3 linked regions of the Homo sapiens genome follow. The protein of the gene in region 1 interacts with the protein of each later gene in a pairwise test. Each region holds a gene or a part of one and is shown in the gene's direction. Other genes may lie near its edges. The genes, in order: PALLD, PDLIM3 and NCKIPSD.

Region 1 (3,650 bases):
TTAGCCGGGCATGGTGGTGGGCGCCTGTAGTCCCAGCTACTCAGGAGGCTGAGGCAAGAGAATGGTGTGAACCTGGGAGGCGGAGGTTGCAGTGAGCCAAGATGGAGCCACTGCACTCCAGCCTGGGCAACAGAGCGAGACTCCATCTCAAAAAAAAAAAAAAAGAAAAAGAAAAAGAGAAAGGAAGCACATTTTAAGCAAAAGGAGCAGCAAGTGCAAAGGTGTGAAAACCAGAAAGAATCTGAATTGTTTGAGGAATGGTGAGTGGGCCAGGGAGGCCTGAGTGCATGTGTGTTGGTGATGACAGAGGGTGAGGCTGGAGCATTTCCATCAGCTCAGGCTGTCCACGGGTATGTTTAACCTGCACATCGTGCTTTGGAACTTTTCTCATCAGCCGGGGAGCATCATAGGAAAAAAATAAAAACCAAAAGAGTGACGTGACACAATTTGTACCTATGATCTCTCTTACCATTTTTATCCCTTACTGCAATTTGTTGAAACTATTTTAATAGAAATTATCACGCTCCTCCTTGTAACTGAGTTATTTTTTACTCTTGTCTAATCCCTCCTACTGGATTGTAAGATCATTTAAGGAGAATAACTACGCCTGCCTCATCTTTGTCCTCCTTGAAGCTTCTCTTGCACAACTAAGCAGTTGTTCCGTTGATTTCATGTTCAACTTACTATTCCAGGAAAGGGAAGTAGAAGAAAGGAAGCATGACTGTAAGATGGGCGAGGCCAAGGAAGAGTCATTTCCTCCATGGTGAAGAACATAATGCTACGCAACTTCAAGCAAATTAAAAAACAGTTGTGGTTGGCCAGGCATGGTGGCTCACACCTGTAATCCCAGCATTTTGGGAGGCTAAGGTGGGCAGATCACAAGGTCAGGAGTTCAAGACCAGCCTGGCCAATATGGTGAAACCCTGTCTCTACTAAAAATACAAAAATCAGCTGGGAGTGGTGGCAGGCACCTGTAGCCCCAGCTACTCGGGAGACTGAGGAAGGAGAATCTCTTGAACCCGGCAGGTGGATCTTGCAGTGAACTGAGATCATGCCACTGCACTCCAGCCTGGGCGACAAAGCAAGACTCCAACTCAAAAAAAAAAAAAAAATGGCTGTGGCTAATGAGCGTTTTAGGGAAAATGACAATTAAGCTAAACTGCTAAAGCTGGAGATGATGGATAAGACAAGGATGAGAAAAAGAAGAAGACAGAAGAATTTCTAGGAAATTCAGATTCCTTCTGAGAAAAGTGAGGAGGCAGGGGACAGGACAATTTAAAGATGCCAAAGAATCCTTTATTCTTCAAAATTTCAAAATCTTTCAATGCTACTTACTAAAGTAGAACCACTTTAATGGCGTTGGTGTTTACCTCATTTCCTCTTCACTCATTAACAGCAGTATTAGTGGGTCTTTTTAGTCTATTTCATCTTCTGTGTCTATCACACCGGCATAGAATTACCAAGAGCACTGTTTGACAGAAAACATGAAATCTCAGGCAAATGATGGAGATGTTTGTGATTGTGTTTCATTCCTTTTGATTTTGACCTTTTCATTTTGGAGTGCTGACTGACATGGAAATCTCTGAAGCACAATTTTCCAGTGAACTTGGCCCGCTTGGAAACCGCCCTTGTTCATCCTCATTGAATGAGCATTTTCCCTAGACCACGTGCATGTTCCCGCGGCAATAACTGGCTTGCAAATTAAGCCTGAACCAGATATGCCATAGAACTATTATTTTCTTTTTCAATGTGCAAGCAGTTTTAAAGCTACACCTAATCCTGACTACTGGATCCTGTCAGATGGCGCCTCTTTAAAACCAAAATATGAGTTAATAAGCAGGTGAGATAATCTGCCTCCAGCAAACACTCCCTACATTAAGAATTGAAAATGTTTTCATCATTCAGAAGTTTGCTTTAAGCTTTGTTATATAATGCTCCTTGTGAAGTTTTAAAATGTATCATATTATGTTCATTTGGAACTAAAAAGCAATTGAATTAATAGCAGAACTCTGATTTCTGATCCACAGTTTTGTTAGTTTGATACATTGCTTAGGATTCTCAATTATGAAAACTACAATGGTAAGATGGTAAAGTGCATAGAACATGAGCTCTGGAGTTATTCCCTGGGCTTAAACCTTGGTTCTCCCACTCAGATTTTCTGCCTCCATTTCCTCCTTTCTAAACCAGAGGCTGCTGTGAGGGTTTTAAATGAAATAATCTACATGATGACTCTGGGCACAATGCCCACCGCAGGGTAAGCAGTCCATTATTAGCCATTATCATTATCAATCATCGTGATCATTAATTGCCTTTATATGTGTTATATGAAGTCATTAGGTAGCTAATGTTCTATAGAAGGGGTTGGCAATTTTTTCCTGTAAAAGTGCAGGTAAATATTTTAGACTTCATGTGCCATATAGTCTCTGTTGCAACTACTCAACTCTGACATTGGTTCAAAAAAACAAAGACAATCTCTACATTCAAACTCCTACCCATGAATTCCAACCCAGCATATATGTCAAAGGCCACCTATTCCTTGACCATATTTTCAATGGCCTTGCCCACTTCCCTCCCATTTTACCTGCATGTCAAACTGGGATCATCTATCTCTGTACCTTCACCTGGATGGCTGAGCTCTGGTGGAGAGAATTGCACAATCACACAGATTAATGACACTATAAATACATCACATCTAACTTCAACCAGGCCCTCACCTCTACCCATAAATCCTTCTTACAAAACTTCCTTCCCCCTTTTTCTACAACAGCTATTTCAAATCATCTTCTGTCCTCATAAACCTCCAATGCACAGAAGTCTCAGTTTGGGAACTCTCCTTTCTTTCTATTACAAATTTTGCAGAGAATCTCATGTTTCTCTCTCTCTCCCTTTCTCTCTTACCGCCCCCCATGCCCCAACACACATACACCCTTTGTTACTTCTCTCCTTTAACAATGAAAGAACTGCCCCCTTCCTACTGGAAGCTGAACACCTCATACTCCGTTTGTCCTATAATAACTCATTTCTTCTTACATCTTTTGAGAGCTGACCTATAAATCATCCCCGCTTTTTTACATTTATTTTCAGCTTCTCCCTTCTTACTGCCTAATTTGGTTTGTATAAAACATGTTACAGCGCTCTATCCTAAAAATGAACAAACCTCACCAGAGTCTATACTTTTGTTCAACTACTACCTTCTGTCTCTCCTTCTTTCTATGATCTTTTCAAAACAAACCACCACACCTGTAATATTTTCTTTCTTTCCTTCTTTCCTTTCCTTCCATGTAGCAATCTGGCTTATATTTCTGTTGCATACACCGAAAGTGCTGTTGCAATGGTGCTAAATATTCCCAAGTTGCTAAAATCAAAAATCAAAAGGACATGTACTGCTTCCTGAGATATTTTCTTTCCCAGCTTCCACGATATCTAGCTTTTCTTGCTTCCCTGTGATTATTCGAAGGATTCTATCTTCTCCTTCTTTTTTCCTCGATGACCTTATGCATTCCCATGTCTTAAAGTGCCACCCATAGGCTAATAATCCCCAATCCAGCTCTGTTCTCCCTTCTCCTGGGCTCTAGATCAGCATCTCAAATCTCCTAGACATCAACACCAGAGTTACCAAAGGTCCCTCAACTGCAAAAGGCTCAAATCAA
Region 2 (4,356 bases), about 17 Mb from region 1:
GAGCAGGATGTAGGAAAACTGCCCATCTCATGTCCCTGCTTTCCACACTCTCTGCAAAGCCTTAGGAACTCATCAAGCCTGGGTGACAGATTAAGACTCTGTCTCCAAAAAAAAAAAAAAAAAACAAAAAGAAAGAACTCATCAGATATTATGTGGATATTGTATAGATATTGGCTACATCTAAATGATGCCAAAATGACCAGCAAAAAGGCAAAGAAAAAATCAGCTGTTTATATAAGCCAGCTCGTGAAGTAAGGTAAAAACAATTACTATAATTACACAACACCAAATGACTTGTCTGATTTTTTTTTTCTGAATGGACCTCTGTGTGTGTGCACGTGTATGTCTGCACCACGCAGACAGAGCCAGCAGCTGACTGAAGAAATGTGCTCTGCAGTGATACAGCCACAGCCCAAACAGGCAGTCAGCAGGACACACAATGTTCAGCTCCTCGATGGTCCAGCATAGATGGGGCACTGGGAAATGTGTGGAGCTAGAAAGTGCTTATCCCCTGGGACTTTTATGTAATCCACCACAGCGGACAAAGTAATGCCCATCCTACCTTTGTGATTTACATTTGCCCAGGCTGGTTCGCTTTGCTTACTGCTTACTGCTTACTGCTTTCTGCATCTCCTTTCTCTTTCCTCCATCAGTCTTAAAACTGCTTCCAAACAGACTGCCCTCTTAAAAGTCTGCTGCAGCTCTGTCCTCCTGGACCAATACGACCCTATCATATGGGGCATTAAGTCCAAGACCCTTATTCTTGAGTGTTTAAAGCATTTCTTATTTCTCTTCCCTCATTCTCCCCTCTCCCTTTGGGAATCACAACATCCCAACGCGTAACACCAGAAATACTTGAGTCCACACTGAGACTACCACAGGACCCCGGCCAGACTCTCCTGCACTTTGGGAGGCTGAGGTGGGAAGATTGTTTGAGCCCAGGAGTTCAAGACTAGCCTGGGCAACAAAGTGGAGACCCGGTCTCTAAGAAAAATAAATAAATAAAATAAAAATTTAAAAGGACATTAAGTAATTTGGCCAAAGCCGCAGAGGTCGTAAGTAAATATTAACGCACTCGAAACTGCTAAATAACTTATTGTATCGATGATGCTCGTTTTAATTGAAAGCATGGAGGCTGTGGTCTGGCTGCTTTCGCTTCCAACAAAGTGCACTGCTGCGCTCCAAGCAGAAGATAAACAGGGAGACAGGTGTGACTTCAAGAGAGCGACGGACGCTGTAACCCGAAGCCCCCGCGCCCGCCGCGGCCCGGGAGGCTGCCCCAGCCGGCCGGGCTGCGCACTCCCGCGGGGCTGGCGCGGCTCTCGCTTCCAAAGTTGGAGCTCTCCGGGGTGGGAGGGGGCGGGGAGGACGGCGGGGCGGTGACGTCACCCCCAGCGGGGATAAAGCGCCCCCGCCCGGGTCGGGGCCAGGACGCCGCCCGGCGCGGAGTGGCTGCCCTGCGCGGGGACACTTAGAGCCCGGTGGGCGGGAGGAAGGCGGCATGCCCCAGACGGTGATCCTCCCGGGCCCTGCGCCCTGGGGCTTCAGGCTCTCAGGGGGCATAGACTTCAACCAGCCTTTGGTCATCACCAGGGTAGGTGTCGGCATTCTTGCTTTTGCTGCGAGGTGGGGACTCCGGCGGCGTCCGGGGGGACGCAGTGGATGCCCCGGGGCCGAGGGCGGCCAGAAAGCGCGCGAGGGCGGGCGGACGGGGCGCTGCTGGCTCCCGGGCTTCGGCGCCCAGCTCCGGGGGCGGCGGCAACTCCGTCAAGTGGCTGCGGAGCGGCTCAGAGATTTGACAAAGTCCGCTCTAAAGGTGTCCCATCCTCTGGGTCCGCAGCGACTTTCCGAGGAGAGCCACTGGGCTCAGGGAAGGCGAGGCTGCCAGGCTCGAGTGCCTCCTCCCCTTTAGGTTTTAAATGTTTTATATGTGATAACAGAAATAAAACACACCCCATCGCCCTTCCGTAACAAATGATGGGTCCCGGGTGGGAGAGGCGAGGGACTGGCACCCCCCGGCATTCCCTGGAGCTGGCGCGCATCTGAGCGTTTTTCTCGTCCGGATGAAAAGTTCAGCAGCGCGCTGTTCGCGGGGCACGACCTGCGTTGGCCAAACTGGAGCCGCTCCTATCAGCCCAGACAGGGGAAGTCTTCCTAATGCTCACTCCTCAGTTTCCAGGCATTTTGAGCACGTTTTCCAAAGCTGAGAACTTGGCTTAGGAATTACCAACTTCTAACTCTAGCTACAAAGAAAACGTGGCAGACAGTTTAGTTTACCTGATGCAAAGTAAACCACTCAGCCTAAAACGGAAAATAATGCTTTAATGTCAAAGTCAAGCTTTACTTGGTGTTCTCTACTGTCTAATGAGAAAACAAGGTAAAAATAAAACCTCAGGGTTTCTCTCCTGTCAGTAAATTTGTAGAATTAATTCTAAAGCATTATTTGGTCTAGCTGGTTTTTTTCTAACACAATGTTTTTCTTCATAGAAAATTAATGTATTATTTCAGTTATCACATATAAAACATTTAATACCTAAAGGCGTAAACTTCCAGAATATTATACTTTTAGTTGCAGAGTATTATACTTTATTTTCTTGTATTCTTCTCATGCCATATTTTATAATTGTATGTGTTATAATCTGATTGATCTGCTCATACAGATTTTGAACAAGGTAATACCTTTTAAATTCTGTTTTATTTATATATGCCTATGAGATTTGGGAACCAACATCCTTTTAAAAATATGTCAAAATGTGTATCCTACAGACGCATACAATGGAACGTTTCAAGCCTTGTTTTACATTTTTCAAAAACATATAAACACATCTGACGTGTTTTTATATGAAACATGAAAACTGTTCAACATACCCCCAAAAACGTTCCTAAGTAAAGTAAGCAGAAAATGCTTCAGTGACCTGGGCCAAGCAATTCCTATTATAGATTTACCAACAAAAACAGTTTCCGTTATATCTACTAAGAAATGTTTTAGTTTCTGGAGTATGGTTTTTATTTAAATTGAATAAGCTTTTGAATCCTAACACAGAATAAATCATATTTATATTAAATTCTAACCAAAATAATTTTGTCACGAAAACTTTTAAGGTGTTTATAAAAGAAATATTTTGCTATTATAGTATAATCGTATGTCAATATAATTAATCATATGCTTGAAATTTTGAGTTGTTGACATTATAAATGTTTATTTTAAAGCAGTACTTACATTCCAGAGTTGGACTACAATAGCTATTGGTAAATATATTTGATATAATGGCAGTTATTATTAGGGAAACCAATTCTATCTGGAATTCCTAACTCATAACTAATTTGTATCACTCATTTTTGACATTTGGTTCAATAACAGTTTATGACCAAATATGATTTCACTTGATTATGGCTTTTCTCTTTAATTAATTCTAGGACAGCAGGTAAAACCAAATCATTTTTGTATCCCAAGTGTCCCCAAAGCCAGGTATATAGTAGATTCTTATTGAATAAATAAGAACATTTATTTATTCAATAAGAACTTTTATGCTTTAGTGAACACCTAATTCAGAATATTTTCACTGAAATGATAAGAATATTGAAATTTGTTAAGGAAAAGAATAAAAAGTATTACAGAAAAGTATTACAGAAAAATAACTATCAGTATTGTTAAATGGTGAATTGTTGTACTGCTTTTAACATTTTAACACCATTTTGAAAGGCAGTGTGTGAGGTTGTAAGTGTGTTATTGTACTCTCTTGCTTGCCAGGCATTGATGGGAACCTTTTATGTGCACGAACTCACTGAAATCTCACAATAATCTTTAGGAGAGTAGCAGTAGTGACATCCCCTTTTGCAAATGAGGAGAATGAGGCTTCAAAAGATTTATTAACCCGCCGATGATCACAAGCAGTGGGACAGGCTCTGACGCTAGGTCTGTGTGCCTCCAAAGCCTGCATTCTGAAGGCCACATGTGAAAATGGACACCTGTTCCAATATTTCTAAAGAGTTGTTTTGTGCCATCCTGTTCATCACTGGCCTTATTGATGCTGTCTTCAACATCTGCCACTTTCCATTTTTTCTACTACTGTCCCTCTTCAAGATTTCCTAGCTCCACGCCTAGACATTTGGCTCCCCCGTCCAATTCACACAGCATATTCTTACCGTCTCTGGAAAATGCCAAATTGCTCCTTTCTCATTCTTAAAAATCCTTCAGCGGCATCACTTGTTTGTAGAGAGTGAAATGCGTGTCTTTGCACAACATTCATGACTTTTCACCATCTCCTATCCCAATTTGAGTTGCTAACTTCATTTCTTTCCTCTCCCTTTGTTGTCTCTCCCTTTCCTCCCCTTGTTCCACACGTAGGCAGTGGT
Region 3 (3,650 bases), on another chromosome or scaffold:
GGGTAGGAGGGAACTTCCTGCTATCTGGAGGGTGTTCCTGCCATCTGCTGGGGTTTCCTGCCATCTTTGGGGACTCTGACTGCCTGCCTTGTCCCCCCCAGACCACCAGAAACTCTGTTACTCTGCCCTCATCCTGGCCATGGTCTTCTCCATGGGAGAGGCAGTGCCCTATGCACACTATGGTAAGAATGCAGTAACCGACCAGCTGATCACAGGTCCTAAGCCAGGGCCCATTGCCCGAGGGCCTGGGACCTGCTGACTACACAGCCTAGCAGGGAGAGGCTATCCCCAAGGCTCACAGAAAGCCAGGAAGGGTGGGTGGTGCGGGGGTCGGAGGGGAATGGGGCTGCAGACTTCTGTGCGCCCCTCTCCCAGAGCACCTGGGCACGCCTTTCGCCCAGTTCCTACTGAACATCGTCGAGGATGGGCTGCCCTTGGACACCACAGAGCAGCTGCCGGACCTCTGCGTGAACCTGCTTCTGGCTCTCAACCTGCACCTGCCAGGTGGGGTGGGGCCTGGCTGGGCGGTGGCTGAGCACATGGTGGCTCTCAGGCTCAGCACCCTGTCTATACCCATGTCCTTCCTTAGCTGCTGACCAGAATGTCATCATGGCTGCCCTGAGCAAACACGCCAATGTCAAGATCTTCTCCGAGAAGCTGTTGTTGCTCCTGAACAGAGGGGGTGAGGGCCCGGGAATCTGCGCGGGTACCACTTCCATGCCCTGTGACTCCATGACCCCTGCAATGACTCCCGTAACCCCCTGGGGTGACTCTGGGATCCCCACAAGGTCCACCCTGACCGCTATGACCCCTGCCTCCTAGATGACCCTGTGCGCATCTTCAAACATGAGCCACAGCCACCACACTCTGTCCTCAAGTTCCTGCAGGACGTGTTTGGCAGCCCGGCCACAGCTGCCATCTTCTACCACACAGACATGATGGCTCTCATTGACATCACTGTGCGGCACATCGCAGACCTGTCACCAGGAGACAAGGTGCCTGGAGGTGGCTGCAGCAGCGGGGGTCACTGTGTGGAAACTGAAACAAAATGGTGGGGGGCATGACATTGAGTGGAGATGAGGGGGCAAGGCCACTGCTGGAGCCAGGTAAGTGTAGGAGGCCATGATAGGTGCACCAAGACCCAAAGGAGCCAGCCATGAGGTGATCTGGAGGTGGTGGGGCTGGAGGAGGCTGGAGAGGAGGGAGTGGAGGGAGATGAGGCATGGAGGATGGAGTTTACACAAAGCCTCGGAGGCTGCTGCAAGAGGTTGTGATCTCAGGACCGGGGAATGTGATGTGATTAACATCCCACATGGAATCAACTGCATGCCAGCAGAGTGGAAGCCAGCCAGGGAGGAAGCAGCCTCAGTGGTCCAGGTGGCATGGATGGGGTGGGGATGGGATAGGTCGTGGCAGTGGCAGTGGCGAGAAGAGGCCAGCTGTGGAGTGTTTAGTAAGTGGATCTGGCAGGGCTTGCCACTTGATTTATCTTGAGCAGCTAGATGGATGAAGTGCTGATTTTTGAAGTTGGGGAGGCTGGGAGAACTTCTTGGGGGAAAATAGAGAGTCGTGTTTTGAATGTGTCAAGAATGAGGAGATATCTGCTAGACACCCAGGTACCGAGGGCATCAGGGAGGCAGTGGGGAATGAGTTGAGACTAGAGAGACATTTCGGAGTGGTCTATGCAGAGATACGATGGGAAGCCTGTGACAATGTGATTGCCTCAGAAATGAGATAGATAGGCAGGTCAGCGGGAAGTTCGGGCTGCAGCCCTGGGCACAGCTGAAACAACTAGGGAGAAACCCAGGAAGAGAACCAAGAAAGCAGGAGCCCAAAGCCACATGTTTAGAGGAAGACGATCAGCCATCTCTATACCGTTAGGAGCCTGAGCGAGACTGGGGTTGGCCATTGGATTCACCACACAGAGGTCAGTGGTGCCTGACAAGCAGTGTCAGTGGGGTGCAAGGAGGAGAGTCTGAATGAAAGTTTGAGAGAGCTTGAAGTTATTGGGGAGTAGAAATGAGGGGAGGGTTGGAAGCAGTAAATGGAGACAACTCTTGTGAATTTTCTATTAAGGGGAAGAGAAAAATGGAAGGGAGGTTGCTGGAGAGAGATGACATGGGGATAGGGAGAGTGTTTTTTTGGGGGTTTTTTGTTGTTGTTGTTTGTTTGTTTGTTTGTCTCCCACTGTTGCCAAGGCTGGAGTGTAGTGGCACGATCGTGGCTCACTGTAACCTCCGCCTCCTGGTTTCAAGTGATTCTCCTGCCTCAGCCTCCCAAGTTGCTGGGATTACAGTCACCCACTACCACACCCAGCTAATTTTTATATTTTAGCAGAGACAGGGTTTCGCCATGTTGGCCAGGCTGGTCTTGAACTCCTGACCTCATGCAATCCACCTGCCTCAGCCTCCCAAAGTGTTGGGATTACAGGTGTGAGCCACCGTGCCTGGCCAGGGAGAGTGTTTTGAAGATGGGGGATGTTGGCCAGGCGCGGTGGCTCATGCTTGTAATCCCAGCACTTTGGGAGGCTGAGGTGGGTGGATCACTTGAGGTCAGGAATTCGAGACCAGCCTGGTCAAAGTGGTCTCTACTAAAAATACAAAATACGAAAAATACAAAAATTAGCTGGGTATGGTGGTGGGAGCCTGTAATCCCACCTACTTGGGAGGCTGAGGCAGGAGAATTGCTTGAACCCGGGAGGTGGAGGTTGCTGTGAGCCAAGATCACACCACTGCACTCCAGCTTGGGTGACAGATGGGGGATGTTGGCCAGGTGCAGTGGCTCACGCCTATAATCCCAGCACTTTGGGAGGCCGAAGTGGGAGGATCACTTGAGTCCATGAGTTCAAGATCAGCCTGGGCAACATAGTGAGACCTCTGTATAACCTGATGGACCACAGTAGAAAATAAAATTAGCTGGGCATGGTGGTATGCACCTGTAATTCCAACTACTTTGGAGGCTGAAGTGGGAAGATTACTTGAGCCCAGGAGGTCAAGGCTGCATTGAGCCATGATTGTGTCATTGCACTCCAGCCTGGGCAACAAAGCCAGACCTTGTCTCTTTAAAAAACAAAAACAAAAATGGTACGGATGATGGTGCATGTTCTGAGCCGGAGGGAATGATCCAGCAAGCACAGAGAGATGGATGATGTGTTGGAGATGGTGAGCCACCACAGGAGTCAAGTGGATGGGGCAGGAGGGGAGAGTTCAGGTCCAGGCCCACATGGACAGGAGCTAGGGCTGCTCATTCTGGTAGGGACAGGTGAGATGTGGGTACTGAGGGGAAAGACGGGTTTCTGCAAGATTACTTCTGTATTCTCTATGAAGCACAAGGCCAGCTGACAAGGTAGGTAGGTTTCAAAGACAGAGAAGGTGGACATTATTACTACTCTAAGGGAGAGTGACACAGCAGAGAAAAGCAGTGGGAGGCTCAGGCAGTGCTGTGTGTCCGTTTGAGGTTTGCGGTGGTGAATGACATTCAGGCCTGCACATGGCTCTGCATTTGTCTATAGCTTAGACGCTGGTGTTTGATGTGCAGGCACCTCAGTATGACTCCCAGGGCTGGGACTTAGCAGGGTGTGCTGCCTAAAGGAGGTTTTGGTATTATTTCTCTAATTAAAGGTAAAAAGAGAAATGAGGGATGTTGAGGGA

Evidence for each region.
Region 2: the proteins of PALLD (region 1) and PDLIM3 interact in a two-hybrid assay, tested with the Homo sapiens proteins (one large-scale study listed by BioGRID and IntAct).
Region 3: the proteins of PALLD (region 1) and NCKIPSD interact in binary tests that used the Homo sapiens proteins (3 or more experiments, as listed by UniProt).

Annotation. Positions count from the first base shown.
Region 1 is NC_000004.12:168,503,498-168,507,147, forward strand, and holds part of PALLD (palladin), read left to right. Parts: intron 1-3,650. UniProt on the Homo sapiens protein: Cytoskeletal protein required for organization of normal actin cytoskeleton. Roles in establishing cell morphology, motility, cell adhesion and cell-extracellular matrix interactions in a variety of cell types.
Region 2 is NC_000004.12:185,532,580-185,536,935, reverse strand, and holds the start of PDLIM3 (PDZ and LIM domain protein 3), read left to right. Parts: upstream 1-1,428; 5' UTR 1,429-1,501; coding exon 1,502-1,594; intron 1,595-4,356. UniProt on the Homo sapiens protein: May play a role in the organization of actin filament arrays within muscle cells.
Region 3 is NC_000003.12:48,675,909-48,679,558, reverse strand, and holds part of NCKIPSD (NCK-interacting protein with SH3 domain), read left to right. Parts: intron 1-101; coding exon 102-182; intron 183-375; coding exon 376-504; intron 505-589; coding exon 590-682; intron 683-822; coding exon 823-995; intron 996-3,650. UniProt on the Homo sapiens protein: Has an important role in stress fiber formation induced by active diaphanous protein homolog 1 (DRF1). Induces microspike formation, in vivo. In vitro, stimulates N-WASP-induced ARP2/3 complex activation in the absence of CDC42.